2 separate regions of the Homo sapiens genome follow, and region 2 is linked to region 1. Evidence: fine-mapped QTL for protein levels in blood plasma. Region 1 holds a variant in brackets. A gene starts in the other region. All regions are shown on their reverse strands.

Region 1 (15,515 bases):
GATACATGCTTTTAAAAGTTCAAATTATAATATGGCTCTCAAGGTGTGAGGTTGATAATTAGGGCTGGGACACTTAAGATGGAGAGTCTTTAAAGTGGGGTTAGTGTCTATCCCTATTCTAGTTCCTAAGAAGATATAAGAGGAAGAAAGAGAGTTGCTTTGTTTAGTTTTGTTTTGAGCTTCCTGAACAAAGTGTGTGTGAGAGAACTGATAGAAGAAAGTAGATCTCCACTTTTCAAAGGCGTATTAGCGTCTGCCTTATGCGTGGCACTAAAGGAATAAATGAAGTACGCATAAGATCACCTTTGCTCTTAAGGAACTGAAAATCTTATTAAGTTTTTAGAAGTCAAAAGTCTGAAAGTTGTTAAGACTTGCCAGAGCCTAAAGAACATTCTAAAACCCCTCGTCAGGCCCACACAACCTGACAAAGTGAGCGCATTCATTGACAGTGGCACCCTCCAATCACCCCCAGTACCCTATTCCTTTTCAATTTTACAGGAAGCACAAGCTTGAACAGGGCCCAGACTATAGTCCTATCCTAGATCAAGTCTAGGCAGGTACCTCCTCTTCCCATGGCTCCACTGCTTTTATTCAACCCTATGTAAGGACTGTGGCAGATGGAGAGTCAGCCCACAGTCTTAAACCTCATTCCACAGTTGCACTGGGTGGTTGGAACACAGATGGAGGCAAGGGGGCCATCTTGTCACCCAGAGCCTGAACTGAGTGGGACCTCTACCCATTGTCTCCACTAACAGTCACATGGCCACCTGCTGCCTGCAATTTAGCGTTGCGTTGCTCCTCAAACTTCTCTACCTCTCCCAGAGGAAGTTGGTGAGGTGAAGGAAGGAAGTGGCCAGGAATAACTACACTAACAGCAACCTCGTATCCATAAGTAAGGTTAGCTTCCACTTCCAGCCACCTTCCAGCATTCTGCCCTGGCTCACTGATAACCCTATCCACAAGCACACTTCCACTCCCATCTTTGCAGAAGCCTAGCCCTTCTCCCTAGCCACACAGCTGTATCGTGCATTAGCACTTGAGTTGTATTAAAAATGAATGTAGACCGGGTGTGGTGGCTCATGCCTGTAATTCCAACACCTTGGGAGGCTGAGGCAGGCGGATCACTTGAAGTCAGGAGTTTAAGACCAGCCTGGGGAACATGATGAAACCCTGTCTCTACTAAAAATACAAAAATTAGCTGGGCATGGTGGCACATGCCTCCAGTCCCAGCTACTTGGGAGGCTGAGACACAAGAATCACTTGAACTTGAGAGGCAGAGGTTGCAATGAGCTGAGATTGTGCCACTGCACTCCAGCCTAGGCAACAGAGTGAGAGTCTATCTCAAAAAAACAAAAACAAAAACAAAAACAAAACAAAACAAAGACAACGTAGAGCCAGTCAGGGTGGCAAGAGCACCTGTAGTCCCCACAACTCACGAGGCTGTTCTGTGTAGTAGCTGTGTTCTTAGTATTCCTGATGTGACAGTCAGCTTGACCTATGGATATTTTAGTTAAGATAAAAACGAAGAACAAAATTACCTAATTCAAGAAATTACAGGCTTATCCGGTATATCTATCCATGTTTATTTCCTCTGATGGTTTCAGGTTGATTTCAAAATACTTAACTAAAAACGTATTTCAATTTACTGTTTTTAAAAGACAGTTACCAGTTTAAAAGACAGTTCTGTAAGTCAACTATCAATGCTCAGGTAAATGTATATCTTAATTAAGTTTAACTTACCTCTCCAGGGGGAACACACCTGAAACTAGAGGAACAGCTTATGTGGTCTATGAGGACATCTTTGATGCCAAGAATGCATGTGATCACCTATCGGGATTCAATGTTTGTAACAGATACCTTGTGGTTTTGTACTATAATGCCAACAGGGTAAGTATAGCAAAGTTCTCATTGTGTAGTGATCTCATTTGAGAATTAGTGTAGAACTGGCCGGGCGCGGTGGCTCATGCCTGTAATCCCAGCATTTTGGGAGGCCGAGGTGGGCGGATCACGAGGTCAGGAGATCGAGACCATCCTGGCTAACACGGTGAAACCCCGTCTGTACTAAAAATACAAAAAATTAGCCGGGCGTGGTGGCGGGCGCCTGTAGTCCCAGCTACTCGGGAGGCTGAGGCAGGAGAATGGCGTGAACCCCAGGGGGTGGAGCCTGCAGTGAGCCAAGATCACGCCACTGCACTCCAGCCTGGGCAACAGAGAGACTCCGTCTCAAGAGAATTAGTGTAGAACTGTACTGTGATGATATATGTCTACTATGACTTTCTTTTTTGGCTAATGCTATTGATGAAATTCATTTGGCTGTAGATTGGTAATTTAATTTTGGTGCTTACCACATTTCCAGGCATTTCAGAAGATGGACACAAAGAAGAAGGAGGAACAGTTGAAGCTTCTCAAGGAGAAATATGGCATCAACACAGATCCACCAAAATAAATGTTTTCTACATTTTCATTTGGACTAAATCCCACGAATGACAACTACCACCTTTTTTTCCTTTTTAATTAATACTAAATATTGTGATTTCTTATTTGAGGTTCAAAATGACCTGCTTGAAACTTTGATACATATTGGAATACATTATGTTAATAAACTTGTAGCTTTTTGTGAAACACCTCAGTCTTTTCTCTTGAACTTTCCCTTCCTGTTTGATACCAGGAAAAAACAGTTGAAGCTTATCAAGAATTGTAGGTGCTCCTAGGGATTCTGAGTTTCTTGAGAACAGGATCTCTTTACATTCTTAATGCCTCCAGGGCCCGGTGCAGTGCTTAGCCATCAAAGGAACTTGCTGTTTATTGCATGTCCATTAATAATGAAATCTTCATAACAACTCAGTGAAGATAGGTATTTGCATTTTGCAGGTGAGGAAACCAAAGTTCATGATGTTGGTTGAATGAATAAAATGCTAACATACAAAGCTGGTGTGATAACAACCAGTTATTAACCAAGCCTTTACATTTGAATAATGCTTGCTTTATAGTTAACAAAACACCTGTGTCAATATGGGTACCCTTGTCTTTAGAACAGAGGTCTATTATAGAAATGGTCATTTAGATGATAGTACATTGTTAGAAACTTAGATTTGCCTCTTTAAATTGTTTTTTAATTATTATGGGTACATAATAATTGTCACATTGGTAGAAATTTGAGAGCAAGCTGCTTGGGTAGTGGCGTTGGTTGTTACATGTCTAAGATTGTATTTATGTAGACTTTTCCTTTAGTTATTAAGTATCTGTAGGTATATTGGACCTTAGCTCATAATATATCTTTGCCATAAATACTTAATGCTCATTCTTATTATCATGAGTTCCCATGACATGGAAACAGTATGGTTATTACCCCATTCATCATCATGGCAGCTTGGGAGAATATAGCCGTAATTTGCTTTTTATTGCTTAGGCATGGACCAAATGGAAAAACATGGACTAATTGTTTTGTGTGTGATTGGAACCTAAAATCAATTTGAAGGTACATACACTGAATCACTTCAATGTACAAAGAGCATCAATTCTGCTTTTAATTATATCTGAGTGTTTTTTGAAAGCAGTGTAAGAGAGTAGAGTCATTTCTAAGGGTGGGAAGATAAGAAAGGAGCTACAGCTGTAATTTTCTTTTGAATGCTTTTATGAATGCATTATTAGTTTTTGTAATGCACGGTGTGCCTTTAGGTAATGTAAAAAGAATTTTCTAAAAGACTTTCTTGTAAGAGAAAAACTGAAATTAGACTTTAAAACTTAGAGTGTGATTTGTCTAAGTGGCAGGCTAGCTTGCCTCTGGTGTAGTTGTTTTAATAACAAGGAGAAATTCCTTCTATTAGCAGTCATGACCAGTCCATCATTTGGATTGATATATCTGTTAGCTGAATTTCATGACCTAAAGTTAAGACTTAAAACTTCCCTCTAATTGTTTGGAAATTCCATATCCTGTCGCAATTAAGTTACAAGAACTTGCACTCAGTGGACAAACACTGACTCCCACTCTGCACACAGTACTGTACGAAGATGCTGAGGATATAATTATGATCGGTCCTCTGTGCAAGGCATCCAAAGCTCAATTTTTCAAATGCTTTTAAGAGTGCAACAGATGACTGTGTTTATATGTGCACACACATGTGCCAGAGCTGCTTTACTTTCATCTGGGTTAAATTTTTGAGTTTCTAAGAAAAAAATTCGTAGGAATAGAGAATTCATTGACTGAAAGTCTGAAAACAACTGATGTGACCTTGATCTTATTATTGCTCTTCTGTTTAACAGCTTTAGTGGCTCTCATAGGCCAATGTCCAGACTCATTAGCATACTGCATCATGATTTTCTGCATCATCTTTTAAGAGCTCCAGTAAAATGGTTCATTTCCCAGTTTACCTGCAGAGCCTCACCTGTCCTCTCCAGGTGCTAGCCAGTATGTGTTTGCACTTTGGGGGAGTTCTTTTAGTGGGTGTCTCCTTTGACCCACCTCAGTTATAAATACTCTAGACCAATATCTTTTATATGCCCCATAGTGGGCACCTGAAATAGTCCTTGATGCCATCTTTTGTTATCTTATTGGTGTCACAGCAGAAAATATGCGTATGTCTTTTATGCAGGCTGACTTCTGAGAAATTATTGTAGGCATTTGAGTCATCAAAGAAAGCCAGGAACCAAGACATTCTGAAGGAAATACCCTCTGGCTGGTCTAGTCTCACAATAGAGGTGAGCACAGGGACTTTGGTGACTAAAATGCAAGGCAGTTCCTTTCTCTCGTTTTCTCCATCCTAAAGCACTGCTTCTTCATTAGCTCCTCCACCCTCAGCAAAGGAATACAGCCAGGATTTCTTGGAGACAAAAAAGGTAGATCATGTAGCCAAGATGACATGGCCTCATAGCATATATATGACATCATGTGACATGTATCAGTGGGTCTATGAGGAACACTAACAGTACCTGTTATCAGCCCCTCCGTCCTCAATCTTGAAACAATTCGAAGTCGTCACTGATAGAAAACCGTATTGGCTGAGTGCAGTGATTTAAACCCATAATCCCAACACTTTGGGAGGCTGAGAGAAGATAGCTTGAGGCCAGGAGTTTGAGACCAGCCTGGGCAACATAGTGAGATTCCCCCATCTCTATTTTTTAAAAATAATAAATAAATGATTAAAAAAAAAAAAGAATAACCCCAACTATGGCCAGGAGTTTTTCTCATCCTATACCAACTGAAAGAAAAATGTTTGAGGCTGGGCGTGATGGCTCACACCTGTAATGCTAGCATTTTGGGAGGCCGAGGCAGGCGGATCATAAGGTCAGGAGATTGAGACCATCCTGGCTAACATGGTGAAACTCCGTCTCTACTAAAAATACAAAAAATTAGCCAGGTGTGGTGGTGGGCACCTGTAGTCCCAGCTACTCGGGAGGCTGAGGCAGAAGAATGGTGTGAACCCGGGAGGCAGAGCTTGCAGTGAGCCGAGATCATGCCACTGCACTTCAGCCTGGGCAA[C/T]AGAGTGAGACTCCGTCTCAAAAAAAGAAAGAAAAAAAAGAAAAATGTTTGAGTATATTGCCTCAGTCTCCTATGGCCTATATATAACCTACACCAATAAGTGTGCTGATTTTAAAACCTAACTGGTGTTTCTGGTTAGTTACAATAAATGTTGATGAAATAAGCACTATATGTGGAAACAAGTTCAGAATCATACATTCTTCTCAAAAGTAATTCCTCAATGTAAGTCAGAACAAATCTAGGTGAAACTAAGCAGTGTATGTGAAAACAAGCTCAGAATCACACACTCTTTTCACAAGGAACTTCCCAATGTGAGTTAGTGTACGACTTCAAGCCCTTAACACACCTTCATTTGTTTAGACACAAAAAGTGTTCTGTATCCATCTGGGTGAGTGGAGCTCATCCCTCTGGCTGTAGTCCAAACAAAGATTGCAAGAGCACATAAGGTGCTCAAGTCCCACATCTGATTGCTAGGCTACAAGATTTGGAGCCTATATTTCTTTAGTTATGCAGAGGAGGATTCTGAGCCTGAGATGAGCGGCAGGTAATATCTACTGTGCAGGGTTGCTTAGAGGATCAATGGTAATAATTTAAAAGTATATAGCCAGGCACAGTGGCTCACACCTGTAATCCCATCACTTTGAGAGGCCAAGGCAGGTAGATCAGTTGAGGTCAGGAGTTTTGAGACCAGCCTGGCCAATATGACAAAACCCTGTCTCTACTAAAAATACAAAAATTAGCCAGGCGTGCTGGTGAGCATGACAATCGTTTGAACCCAGGAGGCGGAGGTTGCAGTGAGCCAAGATTGTGCCACTGCATTCCAGCCTGAGTGACAGAGCGAGACTCCATCTCAAATAAATAAATAAATAAATAAAATAAAAAAGTATGTAGAACAAGGCCCAGCATGTAAAATGCTCACATTGTAGCTATTATATTTATCACTCACCTAGCCACTTGGAACCCTCCTTTCTTTCCACTCTTTCCCAAGGGCACCTGGCTTGTGTGGTCCTTAGAGCACTTCCTACCTAAAATAAGGATGGACAGGAGTTTGTCAAGCACAGAGCCTTTATTTTACATTTTCTCAAAGAGGACATTGTTTAAGTGAGCAGCTAACAGAATTTATAAGAGAGAAAGTGACAGCAAAGGTAACTGGCTCAAGTCCCTCTGTGTACGGTACGCCATGTACATTTCATGTCTGAGCACCTTGTGTGTGTGGTTTAAGTGAAGGTAAGGCAGTGTAGATTGTGCGAACAAGAGATCTGTGTTCTGTCATCAGGAAAGGCTACTACATGCATCACACAAAATGCACAACCTGAAATGCTTCAATCTGCAACCGAAGTTTCCTCAAGCAAGAATTCGCATGAACACTGACGAACACATACAGAGCAACTTGGGCAGAGAGAATGGATGATGCCATGAGGCAGTGAGGTTAGCACACTGATCAAGAGCCCCAAAAGCAGGAGCCGTCCCAGTGGCAGAGCAGGCTAGGAGGGTGAGCAGCAGCCATCTCCAGCCACCTTGAGTTCCTTCCTGCCTTCACTCTAAGTTGAGCAGCTCCACGTCAAAGATGAGGGTGGCATTGGGAGGGATGACACCGGGGTGGCCCGTGGCTCCATATGCCACATCAGGGGTGCAGGTCAGCTTCGCCCTCTGCCCCAAGCTCATCTAGCAGGGATGGGGGCAGATGGGGAGAGGAGAAAGAGGACCCAGCTTGATTTAAAAGAAAAAAGTTAGATGACTATGGCATTTTCCCAAACCATCCTCAATGTTAACTCTGAAGATCTCAGATGAATTTTACATGGGATACATTGAAATCGTGCTAACAGCTTTAACAAACGCAGATTCTGCCTCAGCAGAGATGTGACTGTGGGGCAGTAACCCTCACAGAGTGGTCTCAAATTCATGCATCTGACAAACATTACTGGTTATTCAATTTGTGTATGACTGAAACACTTCCATTTGTTCATAGTTCACCCTCTTCCAAAGAATAGGCCTCTTTAGGAAAAGAGGGTGTATGAATAGCACACGTAAATACTCAAGTAGGTGACAGGGGCAGTTATTTAAAGTGGTTTAGAGACTAGAGTCACCAGCAAGGTGGCAAGGGGGACCTATTGTGGCCAACCGTGGTGGCTCACACCTGTAATCCCAGCACTTTTGGGAAGCCAAGGTGGGCAGATCACTTGAGTCCAGAAGTTCAAGACCAGCCTGGCTAATATGGCAAAACCCTGTCTCTACTAAAAAATACAAAAAGTCCGGGCGTGGTGGCTCACACCTGTAATCTCAGCACTTTGGGAGGCCGAGGCAGGTGGATCACCTGAGGTCAGGAGTTCGAGAGCAGCCTGGCAAACATGGTGAGACCCCGTCTGTACTAAAAATACAAAAATTAGCCAGGCGTGATGGTGATGGTGCACACCTGTAATCTCAGCTACTCGGGAGGCTGGGGCAGGAAAATTGCTTGAACCTGGGAGGAGGAGGTTGCAGTGAGCTGAGATTGTGCCACTGCACTCTAGCCTGGGCAACAGAGTGAGACTACGTCTCAAAATAAATAAATAAATAAAAAACAAAAAACAGGCCGGGCACGGTGGCTCGCACCACTTTGGGAGGCTGAGGCGGGCAGATCACGAGGTCAGGAGACCGAGACCATCTTGGCTAACAACGGTGAAACCCCGTCTCTACTAAAAATACAAAAAAATTAGCCGGCCGTGGTGGCGGGCGCCTGTAGTCCCAGCTACTAGGGAGGCTGAGGCAGAAGAATGGCGTGAACCCAGGACGCGGAGCTTGCAGTGAGCCAAGATTGCGCCACTGCAGTCCAGCCTTGGTGACAGAGTGATACTCTTTCTAAAAAAAAACACCAAAAACAAGACCTATCGTAAGGGAGCATCATAGGACTTCACAGACAGACCAAGAAAGAACAGCTTGAACCAGGGCTCATCACAGCAGTTGTTGAGAACCCACTCAGCATTAGTGGGACAATTGGTGAAATTTAAATCTACTTTTGAATTTTGAATAATCAAAAATTTGAATAAGTAAGTAATTTGTATCAGTGTGAATGTCCTGGTTTTGATAATTGTACTATGGTTATGCAAGAAGGGGAAGCTGGATAGAATATAGAAGAACTCTGTACTATTTCTTTAATATTTTTGTAATTCTGAAATTCTTTTCAAAAAAGCGAAAAAACGAAAAATTTTCTTGGCCTACTCCACCCCAACTCTTCCACTACCTCAGTCCCAGGCAACTGGTAGACCTCAGCTAGTTTATTTTTTTGTTTTGTTTTTTTGAGACAGTCTCACTCCATCGCCTGGGCTGGAGTACAGTGGCACAATCTCTGCTCACTGCAACCTTCACCTCCCCGGTTCAAGTAATTCTCCTGTCGCAGCCTCCCAAGTAGCTGGGATTACAGGCATGCACCACCACGCCTGTATTTTCAGCAGGGACGGGGTTACACCATGTTGGTGAGGCTAGTCTTGAACTCCTGGCCTCAACTGATCCACCCCATTCGGCCTCCCAAAGTGCTGGGATTACAGGTGTGAGCCACCGTGCCTGGCTCTCTCAGCTAGTTCTGAGCAAGCCTAGGGGGATGTGCTTGGGATGAGAGCCCCCAGGGACACAAAAGAGGTATGCTGGCAAGGAGAGGGGTGGGGACGCAAAGCCAGGAGGGGACACCAGATGGCGTTGCCATGCCCTGGCTGTAGAGTCAAAGCAGTAGTGGTCTGTGAGTGGGTGAAGGTGGAGGTGGAGGGCAGAGTGCTGATCCCAGATCCCCAACTCCCCAGATCCCCTTTAATGCGAATCCTCATCCTACCTGGGCTGCACCCTCTTCAAAACCTTTGATGACTTCCTGTTTGCCAATTCTGAACTTGAAAGGTTTGTTTCTGTCTCTGGATGAATCAAACTTCTTCCCATTTTGGAGCATTCCTGTCAAAGCAAGAATCGGGTGCAATAGAGCTGTGGTCATGAGTAAACTCCCAATTCAGATTCCACATGTCTAAAATGGAATGCCTTTTCTGCACACACCTGCTCCTCTTCCGATCCTCCCCATCCATCCTGTTGCCCAAGCAGGAAATCTGGACACTTCCTTCTGCCTCACCCCCACATACTGCCTATCACTAAGTCCTCCATATCTTTGGAATCCACCTATTTTCTTCATTTCTATTTTTATTTATTTATTTATTTATTTGAGACAGAATCTCAATTTGTCACCCAGGCTGGAGTGCAGTGGCACAATCTCGGCTCACTGCAACCTCCATCTCCTGGGTTCAATCGATTCTTCTGCCTCAGCCTCCCAGGTAGCTGGCATTACAGGCGCCCACCACCACACTCAGCTGATTTTTGTATTTTTAGTAGAAACAGGGTTTTGCCATATTGGCTAGGCTGGTCTTGAACTCCTGAACTGCAGGTGATCCACCCACCTTGGCCTCCCAAAGTGCTGGGATTACAAGCATGAGCCACTGTGCCTGGCCTTTTCTTTGTTTCTATTACCACGACCAAGTCACCAGCTTATCTCACCTGTACACAGGAACAACCTCCTAACTGGTCTTTTTGATCCTCTTTTACTCGCCTCCATTTCATTGTCCACTTGGCATCCAGACTGATTTTTTTTTTTCTTTAAACACAAATCTGATTCTATTACTCCCCTGCTCAAAATACTTCAATAGCTCCCCAGAGCAGAATCCAAATGCCTACCTTGCATACAGGCACTTCACAATCCGGCTCTGGCCTGCTTATAACCCTCTCTGTTCTCCCCTTCCTTCCCTTCCCTCTGTGTCCTTTTCAGGTCATACCTTTCTCAAATTCCTCTGCACTTTTCAACTTTTTTTTTTTTTTTTTTTTTTTTGAGTCGGAGTCTCCCTCTGTTGCCCAGGCTGGAGTGCAGTGGTGTGATCTCGGTTCACTGCAACCTCCGCCTCCCGGGTTCAAGGGATTCTCCTGCCTCAGCTTCCTGAGTAGCTGGGACTACAGGTACCTGCCACTATGCCTGCTAATTTTTTTATATTTTTAGTAGAGATGGGGTTTTGCTATGTTGGCCAGGCTGGTCTCGAACTCCTGACCTCAGGTGATCTGCCCACCTCAGCCTCCCAAAGTGCTGGGATTACAGGTGTGAGCTATCATGCCCAGCCAGACTTTTCAACTTTTTTATGCCACTTCCTCCACCTAAAGTTCTGTTTTCCCAGCTATTCCAGCCTCAGGTTGAGTCCTCGCATAAGGTTCCTAAGGTTTCCTAAGTTTCCCCCAAAAGGGAAAACCCAAAGGTTACATTATCCCCTACTGTAGGGAACAGTGTAAGGTGACCTAGCTGGTCAGAGGTGGCCTCCAGACTCTGTACTAAGAGGGCTGTTTGAAACCAGAACCCCCCCCCAGGTGCTGGTCCAGCAGTTCTGGTTCCCCCAGCCTCTGCTTCAGAAGCCTTGTCATCCTGATGTCCACATGTCATCTCAGTCCAGCAGCCCAAGGCCCAACAGCTATTCTCAATTCTTCTGTGACTCTGACTCAAAGATCAGACCTTCTGTAAATGATGCAGTTCCACGACTGCTCCCGGCAGTCCCTGGACCACCACAAAAGGCCATTTGGGACTAGAAAAAGACCTTGCTTGTACATCCAGAGACTGGGTTTTGACTTCACTCTGGCTCTAACTCATTGTGTGAGACTGGGCAAATCACTTCCTCTCCCAGGGCCTCAGATGTGTCATATTTAACATAGGAAGCAGGGCCAGCTTAGTGTAGGAGCATCTATGATGCTACTTCCTAATTCCTACAACTAAAATATATATTAGAGAAACAGTCTTATTTAACTACTTTCTGAGTAGAATACATTAAGCTTTTGCCCTGGGTACTAACTGAGGCAAAGAAGAAAACCCTTCTGGCTACACAGAGGTACATGCAGATGGATGCTAACAAGATCAAATACAATCGCATGCATTTGCTAAGGTTGCTAAGATATTCAAATACACAAAGATACTTGTGCATGCTCACATGCACTTATGCACTCACACTCAGGAGAAAAGCCCTGGTGGCCAAATAGATGCTAAGAAAATATTTACATACACAGATCTACATACATTCACACAGATACATACTTGTACAAATATGCACACAGATATGCAAACACACATGCACACATTCACACACTCCATTTATATACCGACTTTCCTTTCTCATTCCTTAGTTTCTTCAGGTTTCATGTGACTTAATCTACTTTGGATAAATAACTTCATTTATCTATTGCTACAAGTTAAGCCAAAACCATGCAGTCTAGAAACAGACCCACTTACATGGTGATTTGATTGGACAAAGATACCACTGCAATGCAGCAAATAAAGGTTTTTTTTTCTTGCATTAAGGTTGTTGAGTCAACAGTATATTCATATGGGGAAAAAATGAACTTTAACCCCTACCAAATCCACACACAAAAAAATCAATTCCAGATGAATCATAAACCTAAATATGAAAGATAGAATAATAAAGCTTCTACAAGATAACAAATAGAAGGATATCTTCATGACCTAGAGACAATTTTTTTTTTTTTTTTCCTGAGACAGAGTCTCATCTCTGTCACCCAGGCTGGAGTGCAGCGGCTCAATCTCAGCTCACTGCAACCTCCGCCTCCTGGGTTGTTCAAGTAATTCTCCTGTCTCAGCCTCCCGAGTAGCTGGGATTACAGGCATGCACCACCATGCCTGGCTAATTTTTGTATTTTTAGTAGAGACAGGGTTTCACCATGTTGGCAAGGCTGGTCTCGAACTCCTGACCTCAGGTGATCCACCTGCCTTGGCCTCCCAAAGTGCTGGGATTATAGGCAGGAGCCACCGCACCTGGCCTGACAGACAAAGATTTCTTAAACTGAACACAGAAAGCACTAACCATAAAGGGAAAGATTGATAAGTCAGACTTCATCAAAATTAGGAACTTCTGTTCAGGCCAGGTACAGTGGCTCACACCTGTAATACTAGCACTTTGGGAGGCCAAGGTAGGAGGATCACTTGAGCCCAGGAGTTTGAGACCATCCTGGGCAACATAGGGAGACCTTCCTCTCTACAGAAAAACTAAAAATTAGCCAGGTGGCCGGGCCCGGTGGCTCACGCCTGTAATCCCAGCACTTTGGGAGGCCGAGGCGAGCAGATCACCTGAGGTAGGGAGTTCGAGACCAGCCTGACCAACATGGAGAAACCCAGTCTCTACTAAAAATACAAAATTGTCCAGGCGTGGTGGCGCATGCCTGAAATCCCAGCTACTCGGAAGACTGAGGCAGGAGAATTGCTTGAACCTGGGAGGCAGAGGTTGTGGTGAGCTGAAATCGTGCCATTGCACTCCAGCCTGGGCAACGATAGCAAAACTCCATCACACACACACAAAAAAAAACCAAAAAAAAATTAGCCAGGCATGGTAGCATGTTCCTGTACTCCCAGCTACTTGGGAGGCTGACATGGGAGGAGTCCTTGAACCCAGGAGGTCAAGGCTGCAGTGAGCCATGATCCCTGAAGACTAGAGCCACTGAACTCCAGCCTGGGTAACAGAGTGAGATCCTATCTCAAAAATAAAAAAGAAAGAAAAAAATTTTAAAAAGAAAGAAAAGAAGAAAATATAAACTATAAAAAAAGAACTTCTGTTCAAAATATACTATTAAGAGAGTAAAAAGGCAAGCCATAGTGTGGGAGAAGATGTTTGGGATAGATATAACCAACAAAAGACTCATATCCAAAACATATACAAAACTCCTATAAATCAACAAGAAAAAGACAACCGGCCGGGCACCATGGCTTACACCTGTAATCCCAGTACTCTGGGAGGCCGAGGCAGGTGGATCACCTGAGGTCAGGAGTTTGAGACCAGCCTGGCCAACATGGCGAAACCCTGTCTCTACTAAAAACCTCAAAATTAGCCGGGCACGGTGGCACACACCTGTAATCCCAGCTACTCAGGAGGCTGAGGCAGGAGAATCACTTGAACCCGGGAAGTGTAGGTTGCAGGGAGTGAAGATTGCGCCATTGCACTCCAGCCTGAGCAACAAGAGTGAAACTCTGTCTCAAAAAAAGAAAAAGAAAAAGACAACCTAATTTTCTAAAATGGACAAAATTAGAGCAGTCTAAAGAGGATATCCAAATGGCCAGTAGGCACATGAAAAGGTGCTCAACTTCATTCATCATCAGGGAAACACAAATCAAAACCACAGTGACCAGCCTGGCCAACATGGTGAAATCCCATCTCTACAAAAAATACAAAAATTAGCTGGGTGTGGTGGTGCGCACCTGTAATCCCAGCTACTTGGGAGGTTGAGGCACAAGAATCGCTTGAACCCAGGAGGCGGGGTTGCAGTGAGCCAAGATCGCACCACTGCACTCCAGCCTTGGCAACAGAGTGAGACCTTGTCTCAAAAAAAAAAAACAAAAAAACCCACAATGAAATGGTACTGAACGCTCACCAGAGTAGGCCAAAACCAAAACAAAGCCTGGTGTGGTGGCTCATTCCTGTAATCCCAGCACTTTGAGAGGCCGAGGCAGGCAGATCACCTGAGGTCAGGAGTTTGAGATCAGCCTGGCCAATATGGTGAAACACCGTCTCTACTAGAAACACAAAAATTAGCCAGGCATGGTGGCGGGCGCCTGTAATCCCAGCTACTCGGGAGGCTAAGGCAGGAGAATCGCTTGAACCCAGGAGGCAGAGGTTGCAGTGAGCCAAGATCATGCCATTTCTCTCCAGCCTGGGCAACATAGACTCTGTCTCAAAAAAAGAAAAAACAAAACAAAACCAAAACCTGACAATAACAAGTGTTGGGGAGGACACAGGGTAACTGGCAGTCTCCTACACAGCTGCCTAGAGTGGAAACTGGCACAACGACTTTGGAAAGCTGTCAGACAGTACTGCTAACGCTGAGCCCAGGAGGTACCCCACTTCCAGGTATATACCCAACAGAAACATGCACATATGTCTGTACACATGTACACTAAGAGATGCCTGCAAGACTGATCAAAGTGACACTGTTTGTAATAAACAAAAACTATGAACAACCCAAATGTTCATCAACGGTAGAGAGGATACATAAATTGCAACATACTTGTACGTTAAAATACTGTAGAGGAATAAACCATTCTGGATATATCTCGCAGACATAATAGTGAGTGAAATAAGCCAAACACAAAAGAGTACCTACGCTGTGGTTCCATTAAGATGAAGTTCAAAAATAGGCAAAACCAATCCATGGAGACAAAAGTCAGAGTAATAGTTGCCAGCCAGGCACAGTGGCTCACACCTGTAATCCCAGCACTAGGAGGCCAAGGTGGAAGGATCACTTGCATACAGGCGTTCGAGACCAGCCCGGGCAACATAGTGAGACCCTCATCTCTACAAAAAATTAAAATTAGCCAGGCATGGTGGCTCATGTCTGTGGTCCCAGCTAGTCAGGACACTGAAGCAGGAGGGTCACTTGAGCCCGAGAGGTCGAGGCTGCAATGAGCTGTGATCACCACTGCACTCAGCCTGAGTCACAGAGTGAGACCCTGTCTCAAAACAACAACAACAATGACAAAAAAAAAAAAAAAAAGAAAAACAATGATAGCTACCTCTAGGGAGGTGAAATGACTGGGAGAAGGCATCAGGGGGACTTTTGGGGATGCTGGTTCTATGCTTGTATGTTCTATGCTTCTCTAGGTGGTAGTCACATAAATGTGATCACTTTGAAAAAATTCATTGACCTAGACATCTTACATTATGTTCTCTACTATATTTATATTTAACTTTAAAGTTTACCAAAAGTCCCATAGTCTCCCGCTATGTTTGATAAGACATAGTCTCTCCCAAGACAGGAGCTGCTGCCCTATGTATGTATTGTGAAAGGACTTTGCAAAAGGATGTTGTGGTTTCAGTAACTTGATAAATACTGGTCTGTCTACAACATGCAAAATTGTTAAATCAATTACACAGGTCAGAGGCCCCAGACGACCCATGGTAATTAGGCCACATCACCAGGAGATAAAACATGGTCCAGCCCACTGACATCAGCGACCAGCAACACAACTGCTGAAAACATCCACACCATCTGCCTA
Region 2 (15,515 bases), not on the chromosome of region 1:
ATTCAGCTAATAAACGACCTCATTAGGACTCACAGGCAAGTCTGTGGGAGCCCAGGGCTTCTGCTGTTCCCCACTACACACACTTGAAGGCATCCTCCCCACTCAGGCTCAGTGAACACGCTCTCGCTTATTTCAGGGGATACCACAACATCCATAAAACTAAGTTGGATTAACCTATATGCATGAGTGAAAAAGATACCAGTGTATATAATCCAACTCAGGCAGTCAGATGTATCTCTGTACCTCTACAGAGATACAGAGTTGAAAACCTGGCTCTACCATTTAATAGCTATATGGTCTTAAACAGATTACTTAACTTCTCTGTGCCTCAGTTTCTTCATTTGTGACATGACAAGAATAATCTGCTCATAGAATTGTTGCAAGGATTAAATCAGTACCACAGGAGACATGTTTAGAGCAATGCTAGGCACATATTAAATGCCCAAGATCATGTTATCTAAAGCAGAAAATTGGGCCTTGTTTTTGCTAAGAGTTTCTGGCAAAGATGCAATTCTAATGCCAATTCTTAGATGGTGACACTAGATGTCTCAGGAGGAGAGAATTTCATGTATTCATTGGCATTTACCTCATGTGCTTTAAATCTGTCATTTTTCTACTATATGCTTTTAAAGAAACAGAGCTCCCTCTCAATTCTTCTTCCACTACTTCTCCCAAATTTTGATATTTACCGCTCTTGTGATCATTCCTTTTATTTTTTTTTTTTTGAGACGGAGTTTCGCTCTTGTTGCCCAGGCTGGAGTGCAATGGCTTGATCTTGGCTCATTGCAACCTCCACCTCCCGGGTTCAAGTGATTCTCCTGCCTCAGTCTCCCAAGTAGCTGGGATTACAGGCATGCGCCACCATGCCCTGCTAATTTTGTATTTTTAGTAGAGACAGGGTTTCCGCCATGTTGGCCAGGATGGTCTTGAACTCCCAACCTCAGGTGATCCACCTGCCTCGGCCTCCCAAAGTGCTAGGATTATAGGCATGAGCCACCGCGCCCGGCCGATCATTTATTTCTAAATAGTTTGTCATTTCTACTTTGATTTATCTTTAGCCCAAGAGTTATTTAGAAAGGCGTTCTTACATTTCCAATATGGATTAGCCTGGGGAGGACAATTATTGTATTAATTTCTAATTGTATCACTGTTAGGAAACGGCCTATATGACTTTTATTCTGTGAGATTTGGCATTTTCTTTGTGTCTTAATACATGGTATTTCTTAATCTTCTATGCGTATTTCAAAAGAACTTGCATTCTGCTTGTCGGATACAAAAATCATTGAAGTCCAATCCTCACATGCCATCCTACCTGCTTTTGCTTCTCCAGACCTGAGGTGGGTCTAGACAAGAAAGACAAAAACTCCCAAGAAAGGAAGAAGAGGGGGAAAAGGCCCTCTAGGTAGATGTTATGTACACTAACAAGGAATCTGTGGCTAGGAAGGTTAATTCATCCAGAATCACACAGTAAGGAACACAGCCAAGATTAGAAACCTGGGTGGTCTAATCCAATGTTCACTCCTTCATTAACTCAGAGAGGCATCTCAAGGTCTCATCACCCATCAGCACAGCCACAATGTTCCATGCAAAGTAACAGATTCATTTGTTCATTCTTTCATCCGGCAGTATTTATTGCACATCTAACATCTGCCAAGCAACAGTCCATGCGATACAATACCACATGACACGTGAGGACAGTGCTTTAGCCCAAGGAATTACACACCCAAGAGAAGACGCAGTGCCCAACCTTGCCTGAATTCAAGGTTGAGCCTGGGGAAGATGGAAGCTTATTAGAGAATGTTGGCAGAAGTGACTCCTTGGAGAAATTTTGTGGAATGTGTGGATTTACCCAAATGAAACCTACAAGAAGGCCACTCAGGGTGAGGAGATCAGACCTTCTTCCTGCTTTCTTTCTCATCCCAGGAGCCATTCAAGGAGATTCAAAGAAGGCCTTCTTCTTCCTCCTGGAGATCTCAGGTGTCCTTTAGATCCTTCCTCCTCCACCCCACACTTCTTCCCTCTCTTCCACTCCCTTCCCCTGTCTCCTGTCCTGGCCTCTGGACACCACCATGGCATTCAGTTCTCAAGGACACAGAGAGGAGGAAGAAAGGAACTAATACTGTCTTACTCCATCCTCAGCCTTCTCCCCAACCCCTCCTTTCAGCCTCTGTCCCACAAGCTTCCTCTCCCTCATGGTCATTCTAGAATACTTAAATAACAGTGACAACGCGCAACCTTCATTAAACACTCAACATGTGCTGAGTGAGGATCCTTCTAAGATGTGTGCTTTCTATTGACCATGACAGTTAATCCCTAGGCCAGTCTTCTGGGGATATTCCCCATCTTACAGCTGAGAAAACTAATGCATAAAGACACCAAGCAACCTGACCAAGATCCTGCAGACAGTGGGCACCTGAGCTAGGAGGGGTGCCTGGGCAGCTGGCTGCCGGGACTTTGTCCTCAGCCATCTGGAGTGTTGCCTCTTAACGGCTGCTCCACCACCACCCTAGCTGTAGCATGTAGCACTGGCCACAGGAAATGTGCTTCCAGAGCACTAGAAAACAGATGCCGGAGCCCTGCCGCCAAGGTCACAAAAAACAAGAGACTAAGCAATTGTCAGACAGGCCAGAGGAAGCTAAGGAGATGTGACAACCGAATGCAATGTGGTGTCCTGGATCGCATCCTAGAACAGAAAGAGGACATTAGTGGAACAACTAGTGAAATCCAAATAAAGTATGGAGTTGGGTGAATAGTAATGTACCAATATAAGTCTCTTAGTTTTGCTAAGTGTACACTGTAGTATAAAATGAGACCAAGTGAGGGAACCAGGAGAGGACTAGACAGGAACTCTCTGTACTATCTTTGCAACTTTTCCATAAATCTAAAAGTAGGCTAAAACTTAAAAATTTATTAAAAAAAAAAAAACCCTGATGCCATACTGAGCTGTCCTAACCCAGACAGCTGAACATAACCAGACAGTATTTGCTCCACTAATCTCTTTAGGTGGGGGGTTGAACTTCACTCAGTTTCCAGATGGAGACTGGGGAAAGTTGCCATGGAAATGGTCCAATGCCAAAAAGCAGGCTACCCTGAGAGAGGAGATGGGGTGGGGGCAGTTGCAGAGGGGCCTAACATAAAGGTGGCTGGAGGTAAGGCCCCTCAGGGACTACAGAATCTGCGGGCAAATAAATTTACAGAATATCCCCATTCATTGACAGGACAGTTTGGTTTACAGCTTTACAGGCTTTGGGCTGGGAAGGTATAAGAGAGAATGAGACATATGTGGTCTGTGCTCTCCCAGAGCACAAGAACTAACAGAGCCAGTGGCATCTGAAATTGCAATACCATGTGGCTATTTGTATACACCACCAAAAGTAAAGTTTGCGGGGTCCGAGGAAAGGCATGCTCAGTGCTGTCAGCCTGGGAAGCTGGATGACACTGGAACTGAGACTTTGGAGATATGTAGGATTTTGCCAGGAGAAAAATGGAGTACCTAAGTTTTCACCATGGTAGCCACATCTTCGCCTTCATTGTCTTTCTAAATAGGGGCAACCTTCCATGTCATCTTGGGCTAGGTGTTTAGGTGTAGTTAGGAGCCTTGGAACTCCGTCCTTGGGGATGGACCTGTAAGGTCTGGCTTCATTAGCAAACATATGGATTCCCTCAGTAAATGTTCCACTTCAGGTAGGTAAAGATTCACCAGCCCACAGGGAATGGAGCAAGAAAAATAAGTCATAATAATGAGTAAAGGATGTGTAAGGGTCAAGCTGTTATTAATCAACTAAGAGACAAATGTTTAATACAGGCTTACCATGCAGAGTGCTAGGCCCTGGGGCTCCAGAGGACTATCATAACTGCTGTTGCATCAGAGGCATATAGTGCAGTTAGGGAGATGATCGAATACAGTGTAAGGGGATACGAAGAAGCAAGACACACACGTTCAATTCTTGAGCCCACCACTTCCCAGATGGGGATCTCAGTCAAACCTGAGACTCAATTCCTTCACTTGTAAAACGAGAATAATATCTCAATTCCTTGCTTGTAAATGAGAATAATATAAAAACCCACTTTGCTTTGCAGGGTTGAGAGAATTAGAGACAAGGTATGTAAGGTATGTAGCACAAGTCTGTCCAATAGTAGCTGCTCAATAAATGATTGTTGTTATTGTAATTGATGTGGTGACAAGAAGTACTAGAAACACTGACCTTAAAGACAAAAGGACCTAGAAGATAAAGGGGATAAAGGGTCTAACTTATAAAAAGCAACGGACAGTGGTTTCAAACCCACTCCATGGTAATTAAAAAAACAAAACAAACAAACAAAAAAAAAAAACCCACAACCTACTGCAAAGCAACATGCACCCCGTGAGAGCTGCAAGAATGGAGGAGAGTATTCTAAGTTGCAGTTACAGAACACTACTACCTATAAAAAATGAGTTTTGGAAGATGGGTAGAAATTTTGACAAAAGGCAGGGAGGAAGCTTTGGAAGAGAGAGAGGACAACATGAACAAGTGTCCCTCCCTTAGCTCCTGCCAATTCCCCCGACTTCCCCCACACTCACAGGAATAAAAATAAAATTAATCCTCTTCTCTCATCCAAGCATTTTCTGGCCTCCGGCTGATGGGGCTGTAATCCCTACTCAATCCCCATCACTCTCAGCTCTGGTTCCCGTCTGCTCACAGAAAAACAGCTCTTCCAGAGAATGAATCCTCCCAGGTACAGAGAAGAGGGGAGGCAGGAATCCTGACTTGAATGAAATTTTATGACTAGAGAAAGACAGAATCTCAGTGAAGCGCAGATTGGTATGTTAAGGTTCAGTTATGATCCAAAGCACCTGGCACATAAAAGCGGCTCGATAAATATTTATTAACAAATTAAGCTTTAAAGGAGAAGTACACAGCTCCATGTTGCTGATGGGGTTATAATGTTATCCTAAGGAACTATGATTCCACAAAGATCCTGGAGCTTCCAGTGGGGAAGGAGGCCAATAACAGCCATTTAGGAAGCAGCAAGACACAGAGAGAGTAAAAAGTTAGTCTGGCCTTTAGAGCCCCAGGTGGTTGATTTCATTAGTGTGTCCTTATTAGTGCTGGTCTTTGAAGGGCCATTACATCCACGTCATTTCCAGTCCTCTACAGATCCGTCTCCAAGGGAGTCCAAAGCCTTCAACCTCTATTCCATACATCACTGGCTTCTCCATTACCACCATATGGCTTTGATTACTGTTGGCCCTCTTGTCATATACTACATGTCTTTGTCTTCCCTATGTGATCATTTACCCTTTGATACTAGGACTTTGTCAATCCTGCCTAAACTTGACGCCCAGCAGGATGCTAGGCACACAGAGGTCACAAAGCTCTGATCATGGTGGTCAGCAGGTACCATGCACATGCGACCCTGCTGATGCTCCCTTGAGTTGTTTATATGCTTGATGGTTTATACACCAATGCGAGAGTGATTAAGACAATCTAGGATCCTTGCCTTTCTTGTTAAGCCTCAATTCACTCACTTGCAGAATGAGAATAATAGAAAAACCCACTCTGCTTTGCAGGGTTGAGAGGATTAGATACAAGGTCTCTTTACTTATCTGGTACGTAAAGTAACTTATGTATCTCCAACCACCTTTACATATCTGAAAAGGTCAGATTGGGCTGGAAGAATCAGCTGAGCTCAAGCATTACTACTTCTTGGGAACCCACCCAAAGCCTCATGCCCATCTCCCATCTTCCAAAGACTGGCCAACAGGGTCTTCCTGTGGTTGCTTCTATCACAAGGATGATATCCTCATGTCTATTTCTTCTGTTTCTTCCTACCTGACCATGAACTTTCTAAGGGCCAGGAACATGCGTTTATCACCATTACACTCCAGCATCTAGTACAAGGACTGGCACACAGTGGGTACTCAGTACTCAGCAAATGTTTGCTGAATGAAAACAGGGCCATGCAAAAGCATGGAACTGTCTGGACTCAGCAGATTCAAAGTTCAGCTGCTGAGAAGTCAGAGAAAACCATGTCCTGGGATAGGCTGGGTAGAGGCACTGCACATTCTTGGCAAGCCTGTCCTGTGTCACTGAAAAAGCAGGCTGTCGAGGGAGCCCACCAGGAAGAGCAGTGCAAGAGAAGAGATGAGATGAGACCAGGTGAGTCAGATCTTGTGACCATGGCCTCAGGAAGGGATGCCCTTCTGTGTGGACGCTGTTGCCAGCAGGCCAAGACAGAGGAACTAACAATAACAGTGGTGGGTGATTGTCACGGATTATCTCATTTTATCCTCACAATGATCCTATGGGAAAAGGGTGATGAGCCACTTTACAGGGGCAACTCTTGAGGCCTCAGTCCCTGTAGACTTCAAAGCCTCAGGACAGGCTCACAATTAAGCATTTTATAAAACCACACATTCTTAAGGTTGGTGAAGGCCTTATATCTCCTAGTTCACCTCCCCTCCAAGAGATGCTCAAATTCCTACAACATTCAAAATCCCAACAAGCTTCTTGCTTCCTTCCCATGCTGGAGGGTGCACCATCTACTCCATCCTTGGGCAGCTCTGTCTACTAAAAACGCTTTCTTACAGATTCCTCATTTCTACCCATCAACCCCACATGTTCTCTTTGTATCTACCCAGAACAAAGTCAATCACAGGCACGGAAAGCCCTCCAGTTATCGGGAGGCAGTTACCACCTCCCCTCCCCAGGATTTAGAAAGAACACCACAGAAAGAGATTGCATAGGCTGCTCAATGTGCAATTTGTTTCATGCAGGTTAACAAACGCTTCTAATTGATAACGGAAATCAGAGGGAGAAGACGCATATCTTGTTTCAGTGAGGGTGATCCCTGGGAGTCTGGCTGGGGAGAGGGGATAAGAGGAGGTGAACTGACACCAAAATCCACATAAACCTTAACAGTCTTCAAAGAAAAACCTATAATAACGCCAGAGGGGGCTTCTGAGATCAACTCAATTCTTTGTTGTATAAAGGAGGAATTGAGAAGCAGAGAAGTGACGCAAAGAAGCACAGTGATCAGTCTTGGAACCTGCCACCTGTGTCCCTTTGTCCCACGCTGCCATGCATCTGCTCCAAGACGCTACAGAAGCCACCCTGTGATTTCAGAACAATCCTCCCATAATACCACCACCATCTCCAGTCTCACTTTCACCACATCCCCAAGAGGGAAGGGGAGGAAACCTATCATTAATTCCATTGTACAGAGGGTAACCATGAGGCACCGAGGAGAGGCAAAGAGACTTGCTCAGCGTCCCCAGGCAAATTAAATTTATTCTTGGAACTCAAAGCTCAGTTAAGACTCTTTGCTCATTGTTGACAATGAGCTACTGAAAGGGGCCATGGAGTATCTTCCTCTGGAAGTGGATTTCCTAATAAATGGAAGAGCCTGCTGTTCAGTTTTGTACTTTTTTATGGTTGCTGGGTGTGCCGACACAGAGAGATCTTCAAAATCGTGCTCTTCTTTTCCTTCTGCCTCCCCAACCAGCGTGCTTCAAGGGAAGGAGCACTGTGGAGAGTGTCAAGAGCCTGGGTTCCTCTCCTGGTGGTGCCCTGGCCGGCTCTGTGTCCTGGAGCATCCCTCCTACCCCGTGAGCAGCAGTTTCCCCATCTATAAAAACAGGGGCAATAAATTCTGCCCCATCAGTAACCTGGACGCTGTGAGGCTGAGATGACTAAGCACAAGCCTGAGGCAGAGAGGCCACTCCCACAATAGGCAACTGTCCCTTTGCTTCTCTCACTTCCCCAGCTACCTGCCTCCTCCGCAGCCCTGCTACACAGAACAGGTGAAACAGGAATGAAGGTCTCATCCAAGCAAGGGAGAAAAAGGATAAACTCTTGTAACATCATCCCAGCAGTCCCTGACATCTGCATTTTCCCAAGAGCACTCACAGTTATTAGCATATTTCACCATTTATTAAGTCCCCCGTGCCATGCACCCTAAAAGTGTTCTTAAGCATCTTCTGTTGCATTTCGACCTTACAACTACCCATTTTACAAATGACAAAACTTAGGCTGGGATTTTAAGGGATCACCAGTAAGCAGTGGAGCCAGGAGACAACCCCAGTTCTAATCCAGTCCAGTGCTTCCCAAACTGTAATGTGCCCATGAATCACCTGGGGAAATGGATGAATAATTAGATTCTGATTCTGCGGGGCTAGACTCAGGCCTAAGCTGCTACACTTGTAACAAGCTCCAAAGTAGATGGACTAAACTCTTGAGTGTCAAGGGCTAGATTTTAATTCTATTAAGGTAGAACCTGTGCCACTGAATCTCCAAGGCTTAGCACTGGACCTCCCCATAGAATACACTCAATAATTATGTACTGAATGAGTCAATGAATATCTGGCTTAAAACCCTATGCGTTAACCCTTTTCTGTATCAAGTTCCATTGTATCAGCTGATCCTCCCAACAAATTCCTAGGGTATGATCATTCCCATTTGATAGATAAGGAAACAGAGACTCACAGTAAGTAACCTAAGGCTTTACAGCTTTTGCGCAGCCAAGGCTGGAGGTAGTCTACCTTCAGATCCTTTGACCTAACCACAGCTGTTCCAAAAGATACGGCGGGGGAGGGGGGGACAATGACACCCGGGGATAACAATTACAGACCACCGGTTGGAGAGGAGCTGACCCATCCCAGCATGTGACCGGCTCACAGCTCCAGAGGTCACCAGAGAGCTCTGAGCTGCTCCCTGGGGGAAGGGGCAGCCAGGCCTGTAGCACCTCAGGAGAGAAACAGGAAAGGGAGAAGGAGGCTGGTCCTGGGCATAGTGCCAGGCAGCAGTGGGCAGGTGGTGAAGGGACCCCTGACCTCCCGGGCCCAAGCACCCGCTTCGGGAACCAGCTCTGGACAGACACTGTCCAGCTTGCGGGGTGGGAGAGTTAGAGGCGTTCAGGAAAATCATTGCCTAGCGATGAATCACCGGGCACATGACCCCGCAGGGGAGGGGAGGGGAGGGTGCGGAACCGGCGCGGGAAGCGGTGGGGGCTTGGGGAGGGCAAGCCTCCGGCTCGGGCCCCCCTCCAGCCTCGACTTGGGGAGCAAAGGGAAGCCCCTCTCCCATGCAGCACCCCTCCTGGCAGCACCCCGCCTGCGGCGAAACTCACGGCCTTCAGCTGCTCCAGACGGTCCTTCATCCTGAAGCCCAGGCGCCCGGAGGCAGGTAGCGCGTCCCAGGTGAGCGCGTCCCAGGTGAGCGCTTCCCAGGTGAGCTGCCGGAAGCGGCGGCCGGGCCCGCCGGGGCGAAGGAGCTGGAGGCGCAGGCGGCGGCGGGCGGCGGCCGCTAGCTAGGAGGAGCGTCCGAGGCCACGGGAGCCTCCGCCGCGCAGCCCCCTCCGCCCCCACCGGCGCCTCGCGCTCCAAATCCGGCTCCCGGGCCGGCGCCGGCGCAGCGCTGATCCGCCCTGGACCCGCCCCTACCTGGCCGCGCCCCTCGCTCCTTCTTAAAGGGCCCGCGTCCCGCCACCGCCCGGCCGCCCGGGGCGTCTCCAAAGCCCCCTTCCCTAACCCGAGAGCCCTCCAGACACGCGTGGAGTCCGGGGAGAGGCCCCTGCACCGGCGGATCCTGCCGCAGGGCCGAGGAAGAGCAAGAGCGACTGTCTGGCTGCGGTCATTCGCTGTCTGTGCCGGGCTCCTCGCTAGGATCCAGTTCTTAGCCGACTCCTTGCTAGGCGGGGACAAGCTCCCGAAAACAAATAAGACAATGTGATGTGGGCTACATTGGGTGGCAGTCGAGTGTTCTAAAAATATCCCGCCAGGAGGAAGGCATTCCGAGTAGCGGGATCCCGCGCAGCCTCAGGGCTGCTGGCAGTGAAAGTGGGGGGATGGAGGAGGTGTCCAGAGGAAAGACCTGGAGATCTGGAGATACAGGACGGTCAGGGTGGTCAGAGAATTTGGATCTTTTGCTTGTTGGAAATCGGGACCGCTCCGAGAAACGTAAGCAGCTCGATGTTGTTAGTGCCAGTGGAGACACTTGGCACTCACAATTTGCAGACGTTTGGGAAAGCATCGTTTCTCAAGAGGACCCCGTTCCCGTGTCTGTAAATCAGAGATGGTACCCACTTCGTAGTTCGCTGTGAAGCCTGTGAGCGAGGAGGGGCTTTAAAATACAGAACTTTGCACTGGAGCGCTCCCCGTCCTCGCAGCCTGCTTGGTGTGCAGGTGGTTCCCAGGCGGCTTCTGCTTCCGAAAAGCAGATCGTCCCTTTATCTCGAGTCTTCTCCCCGCCTCTCCCTCTTCTCCCTACCCTATTTGTCTTCTTGGGAACAAATGGCACATTCATCAGAGTGGAGATCCATAAACGGGACTGGCGAGCCGAAGATTTAATTCTGAAGAATAGGATCTGCTCTGTGCTTTCAGGTTAAAAAGCTGTAAATATCTTTGTAATTCTAGCAGTACTTTGCCCTCTTCTGCCATCTGAACGCGTGCTCCCTGCTGACCTCATCGGCTCCCATAAAGATACGGTGCGTATGGCAGAGGTCGGGCTTTGAGCCGGCCCCGCGGGTCTCGGCCGTAGTTCTCTCTCGCGTCCGGCACACTTCCTTCTGCCCGCTGTGCTCGCTGGGCAGGTTGTCCCCGCCTTAGTACCAGGAGGGCTTCCGCGCCCCCTGGTGGTCATACTAGGAAAGGCGAGTAGATCAGAAATACACACTGTCCCACCTCCTTCCCCTAACACATTTTTGGGGAGTTTGGGGGTTGTTTGTTTGTTTGTTTGTTTGTTTGTTTGTTTTTTAGACAGAGTCTCATTCTGTTGCGCAAGTTGAGTGCAGTGGCGCGATCACCGCTCTCTGCAGCCTCGATCCCCTGGGCCCAACCCATCCTCCCATCTCAGCCTCCCAAGTAGCTGGGATTACAGGCGTGCGCCACTACGCCCGGCTAATTTTTGTGTTTTTTTCGTAGAGATAGGGTTTCGCCATGTTGCCCAGGCTGGTCTGGAACTCCTGTATTCAAGCCATCCGCCCGCCTCGGCCTCTCGAAGGGCTGGGATTACAGGCGTGCGCCACTGCGCCCTGCCCCTTAACAGATTTTTGTTAGTGGGAATACGTAGTTCCCCGCGCTTCAAGAAAATAGAGTCTTCCGCGAGAGGCCGAGATATGAACAACCCTTCACGTTAGGAATCTGAAAAGGACCATTGGGGTCTGGAGTAAAAAATTCTCTTTCCACAGCAGGAATCAAGGGTGGCCTGTCTGCCTCTGCTCAGAGGGTTCCTGTTACAGGATAATTGTTTTGAAAAGAGTAAAATCATGACTCCTCTACAAATATAAAATGCACACACATCAAAGACTTTAATTCATTAATGAATGAGGAGACCAGTAAAGCTAGCCCTGTCCAGAGGAAAACACAAAGTGTACACACATATATAGGCAATCAGGAATGCTGAAACGAACATGTTAATAAATGCACAACTGGCCGGGTGCAGTGGCTCATGCCTGTAATCCCAGCACTGTGGGAGGCTGAGGCGGGCAGATCACTTGAAGTTAGGAGTTCAAGACCAGCCTGGCCAACATCTTGAAACCTCATCTCTACTAAAAATACAAAAAATTAGCCGGGCGTGATAGTGCACGCCTACAAATCCCAGCTACTCGGGAGGCTGCGGCAGAAGAATCTCTGGAACCTGGGAAGCAGAGGTTGCAGTGAACTGAGATCACACCACTGCACTCCAGCCTGGACCACAGAGCAAAACTCTGTCTTAAAAATTATATTTTTAATAAAAATAAATAATAAATGCAGAACTGGCCTCGGGGTGCTGGGAGAGCAATTGCACTTCTACCAGGCATCTCTATGGACAAGAATCATTGGCATTCCTATGAATTTTCTACAACTTACCAAGTTGGAAAATAGCTGCAAGATTTTATAAGGCAAAAATCACTAAAAAATCAGGTAATCCAGAAAGGTGCTTTAGATAAGGCCTAGCATGCCACAGGACACCCAATAATTTTTGGAGTTTTTGCCATTTTAACTTTTTTAGTTTTTCCAGACATTCCCAAGGTGGCACCTTCCATAGTTGTACAGTTTCAACTGTGTTAAAATTTCTTTGTCGGGGACTGTTGTGGGGTGGGGGAACGGGGAGGGATAGCATTAGGAGATATACCTAATGCTAAGTGACGAGTTAATGGGTGCAGCACACCAACATGGCACATGTATACATATGTAACAAACCTGCACGTTATGTACATGTACGCTAAAACTTAAAGTATAATAATAATAAGAATTCTTTGTCAGCTTGGGCAACAGAGTGACACCCCATTTCTACAAAACATACATAAATCGAGCCAGGTGCAGTGACTCACGCCTGTAGTCCTAGCACTTTGGGAGGCTGAGGCAGGTGGATCATGAGGTCAGGAGATCGAGACCATCCTGGCCAACATGGTGAAATCCCGTCTCTACTAAAAATACAAAAATTAGCTGGGCGTGGTGGTGTGTGCTTGTAATCCCAGCTACTTGGGAGGCTGAGGCAGGAGAATTGCTTGAACCCAGGGGGTGGAGGCTGCAGTGAGAATTGCTTGAACCCGGGAGGCAGAGGTTGCAATGAGGCGAGATTGCGCCACTGCACTCCAGCCTGGTGACAGAGCGAGACTCCGTCTCAAAAAAAAAAAAAAAATTAGCCAGGTATAGTGGTGCTCACATGCAGTCCCCAGCTACTCAGTAGGCTGCGGTGCAGGATTGCTTGAGCCCAGAATTTTGAGGCTGCAGTGAACTATGATCACGGCACTGCACTCCAGGCTGGGTGACAGAGAGAGACATGTCTCAAAAAAAAAAAAAATTAAAAGTATATCTATTCCTTTAAAAAGAGGAACAGGATATTTATAATGAAGCACAGATAAAGGGCAATTGGATAATTGTGGCTTTAAACTCCTTGTAATTAAAGAAATAAGCCATCTAATGTATTTCCTCGTTTGAATGTTTGAATAGCCATACTGAATTTTACTGCACTTTTATAACTTTGTTTTGTCCTGATATCTCACAATCACTCAGGGAGGGAGTTAGGGTACATATTATTATCCCCATTTTATTATAAATTAAATTAAGTACAGAGAAATAAGATGATTTTCCCAAGCTCACATAGCATGCTGATAGACATGCTGCAAAAGGCAGTGGTTGCCTGCCCAGGCTGTGGAGCCAAACTACCCAGGTCAAATCTCAGTTCTACCACTAATGGTTGTGTGACCTTTGGCAATTGATTTAATGCCCCTGTGCCTCAATGTCCTTATCCGTAAGCAAAGATAATAATAATACCCATCTCAGCCGGGCGTGGTGGCTCACACCTGTAATCCCAGCACTTTGGGAGGCTGAGGCAGGTGGATCACTTGAGGCCAGGAGCTCAAGACCAGCCTGGCCAACATGGTGAAACCCTGTCTCTAAGAAAAATACAAAAATTAGCCAAGGGTGGTGGCTCATGCCTGTAATCCCAGCAACTCAGGCGGCTGAGGCATGAGAATTGCTTGAATCTGGAAGGAGGAGGTTGCAGTGAGCCAAGATTGCACCACTGCACTATAGCCTCAGTGACAGAGCAATACTCTGTTTCAAAAAACTAATAATGATAAATAATAATAATAGTACCCATTTCATGGGTTTTTGTGAAGATAAGTGAGTTAATATATACGAGAATTGTTAATTCCGTAATTCAATAACTTGAAAAAAAGTCTGCTAACCCTTTATAACTGCACTGCTTTTTCAGAGAGCACGGGAAACTGAGAAATGCCTGGAATATTTCATTCACAGATAAAATAATAACCATCTTGGTATTCAGAGTCAGCATTTTCCAACATAAGTTCAGCATTCTCCAACATAATGCTGCATTTATCAACATAAGTTCAACAACACAACCCACTTCAAGACGTCCTCCAAAGAAAAAAGAGTTTGGAAAACATCGCAAAATAAATCCCTCAGCTTAGGGAATCATGACCACACATTTGCGGGAGAAAGGGGAGGGGAATGAATAGTCGTGGGGAGAACAGTTTGGAGGCAGACTGATACAGAGCCAGTGATTCATATGGAGACCAATAAGCTCTGGTATAAAGGTAAGAAAAGAGATCGGGTGTGGTGGCTCACACCTGTAATCCCAGCACTTTGGGAGGTCAAGGTGGGCAGATCAACTGAGGTCAGGAGTTCGAGACCAGCCTGGCCAACATGGTGAAACCCCGTCTTTACTAAAAATACAAAAATTAGCCAGGTCTGGTGGTGTGGCACCTGTAGTCCCAGCTACTTGGGAGGCTGAGACGGGAGAATGCTTGAACTCGGGGGGTGGAGGCTGCAGTGAGCCAAGATTGCACCACTGCACTCCAGACTGGGCAACACAGCAAGACTCTTATCTAAAAAAAAAAAAACAAGAATAGAGAAGCTACCGAAACTCCAAGACTCCGATATTTTCTCCATCACCTTTCCCTGGAATAGAAATTAGGATGAAAGATTATTAATTCAAAAAAAAGCACAAACTCAGTGGTCCCAGTTTCATTTGAATCCTATTCCTGGCTTAGCCCCACGTGTGCACTGTTTGGGCCTGCTGAGAACCTGAGAACAACATCTGGAGATAAATCCAAGGTAGGGCAGATTTTACATGATGATGAAGATGGCAATAACCACATTTACTGCCATATCTCCCTTTTTTTTTTTTTTTTTTTAGATGGAGTCTCACTCTTGTTGTCCAGGCTGGAGTGCAGTGGTGCAATCTTGGCTCACTGCAGCCTCTGCCTCCTGGTGATTCTCCTGCCTCATCCTCCCACGTAGCTGGGATTATAGGCACCCGCCACCATGCCAGGCTAATTTTTGTATTTTTAGTAGAGACAGGGTTTCACCAGGTTGGCCAGGCTGGTTTTGAACTCCTGACCTCAGGTGATCCACCCACCTCAGCCTCCTAAAGTGCTGGGATTACAGGCGTGAGCCACTGTGCCCCGCCCATATCTCCCTTTAAAAGTCACAAAGTACTTTCACTTAATATATCTATTGATCCTCAGAAGTACCCCCAGAATTTAGATCCTGCAGGTAGTTTAATCTCTATTTTGGAGGTGAAGAACCTGAGGCTGGGAAATGGAAAATGACTTTTCAAAAATAATATAACTAAGAACTAACAGTATAAAACACAATCAACTGTTGTGCCCCTTCTCCTTATCTTTCTGGCAGTATGCCATGTGTCTCTGCCCAGCAGTATTGAAGAGTGGCATGTGTTTAGAGCAGCGGGACCCTCGTCATTGCTCTCTTCAAAGCATCCTTAAGTTCTGTGTTCCTCATGCTGTAGATCAAAGGGTTCAGCACAGGGGTAATGAAGGTGTAAACCACAGACACTGCCTGGCCCCTCTCAGGATAGTAGCTAGAGCTGGGACACAAGAAGGCGAGGCGTGTACATCAGTCCTGGAGGAGAACCACAGTCAGGTGGGAGGAAAGGTGGAGAAGGCCTTGTGCCTCCCCTCTGCAGAGCAAATCTTCAAGATGGCGGCCATGATGGAGACATAGGAAAGAGTGATGAGCAGGAAGGGGACGGTGAGAAAGGTGGTGCTGACCATAGACATAGTGGCCT

Direction of the effects. Alleles are on the strand shown, and positions count from the first base shown. The strength of an association depends on the size of the effect and on how common the allele is.
For the plasma level of the protein whose gene starts at base 9,368 in region 2, C is the high allele of the variant in region 1 and T is the other (moderate association).

What was found. A credible set is the group of variants that fine-mapping cannot tell apart. PIP is the chance, under the fine-mapping model, that this variant and not a neighbour inherited with it causes the effect. The UK Biobank Pharma Proteomics Project read protein levels with antibody pairs (Olink). The fine-mapping took linkage between variants from a reference panel, not from the people measured, so its PIPs are less certain.
Region 2: STX3 starts here. The variant in region 1 is the best candidate, but not a certain one, in a credible set for the plasma level of the STX3 protein (UK Biobank, PIP 0.85).

The regions. Positions count from the first base shown.
Region 1 is chr2:24,054,693-24,070,207 of GRCh38, reverse strand. FKBP1B (FKBP prolyl isomerase 1B) reads right to left here. Exons shown (of 4, transcript NM_004116.5): 3 at 9,282-9,394; 4 at 6,527-7,144. The coding sequence ends at 7,016. SF3B6 (splicing factor 3b subunit 6) reads left to right here. Exons shown (of 4, transcript NM_016047.4): 3 at 1,749-1,887; 4 at 2,357-2,622. The coding sequence ends at 2,446. Among named protein-coding and RNA genes, the nearest start is that of FKBP1B, 13 kb to the right of the region's middle. RefSeq lists an enhancer at 9,131-9,270 and a silencer at 15,275-15,515. The variant C/T (reference allele first, on the strand shown) is at 5,480.
Region 2 is chr11:59,749,229-59,764,743 of GRCh38, reverse strand. It overlaps STX3 (syntaxin 3), which reads right to left and starts at 9,368. Exons shown (of 11, transcript NM_004177.5): 1 at 9,109-9,368. The coding sequence starts at 9,138. It also overlaps the pseudogene OR10V2P. RefSeq lists a silencer at 9,168-9,427 and enhancers at 10,298-10,457, 10,394-10,688, 10,454-10,748, 10,438-10,938.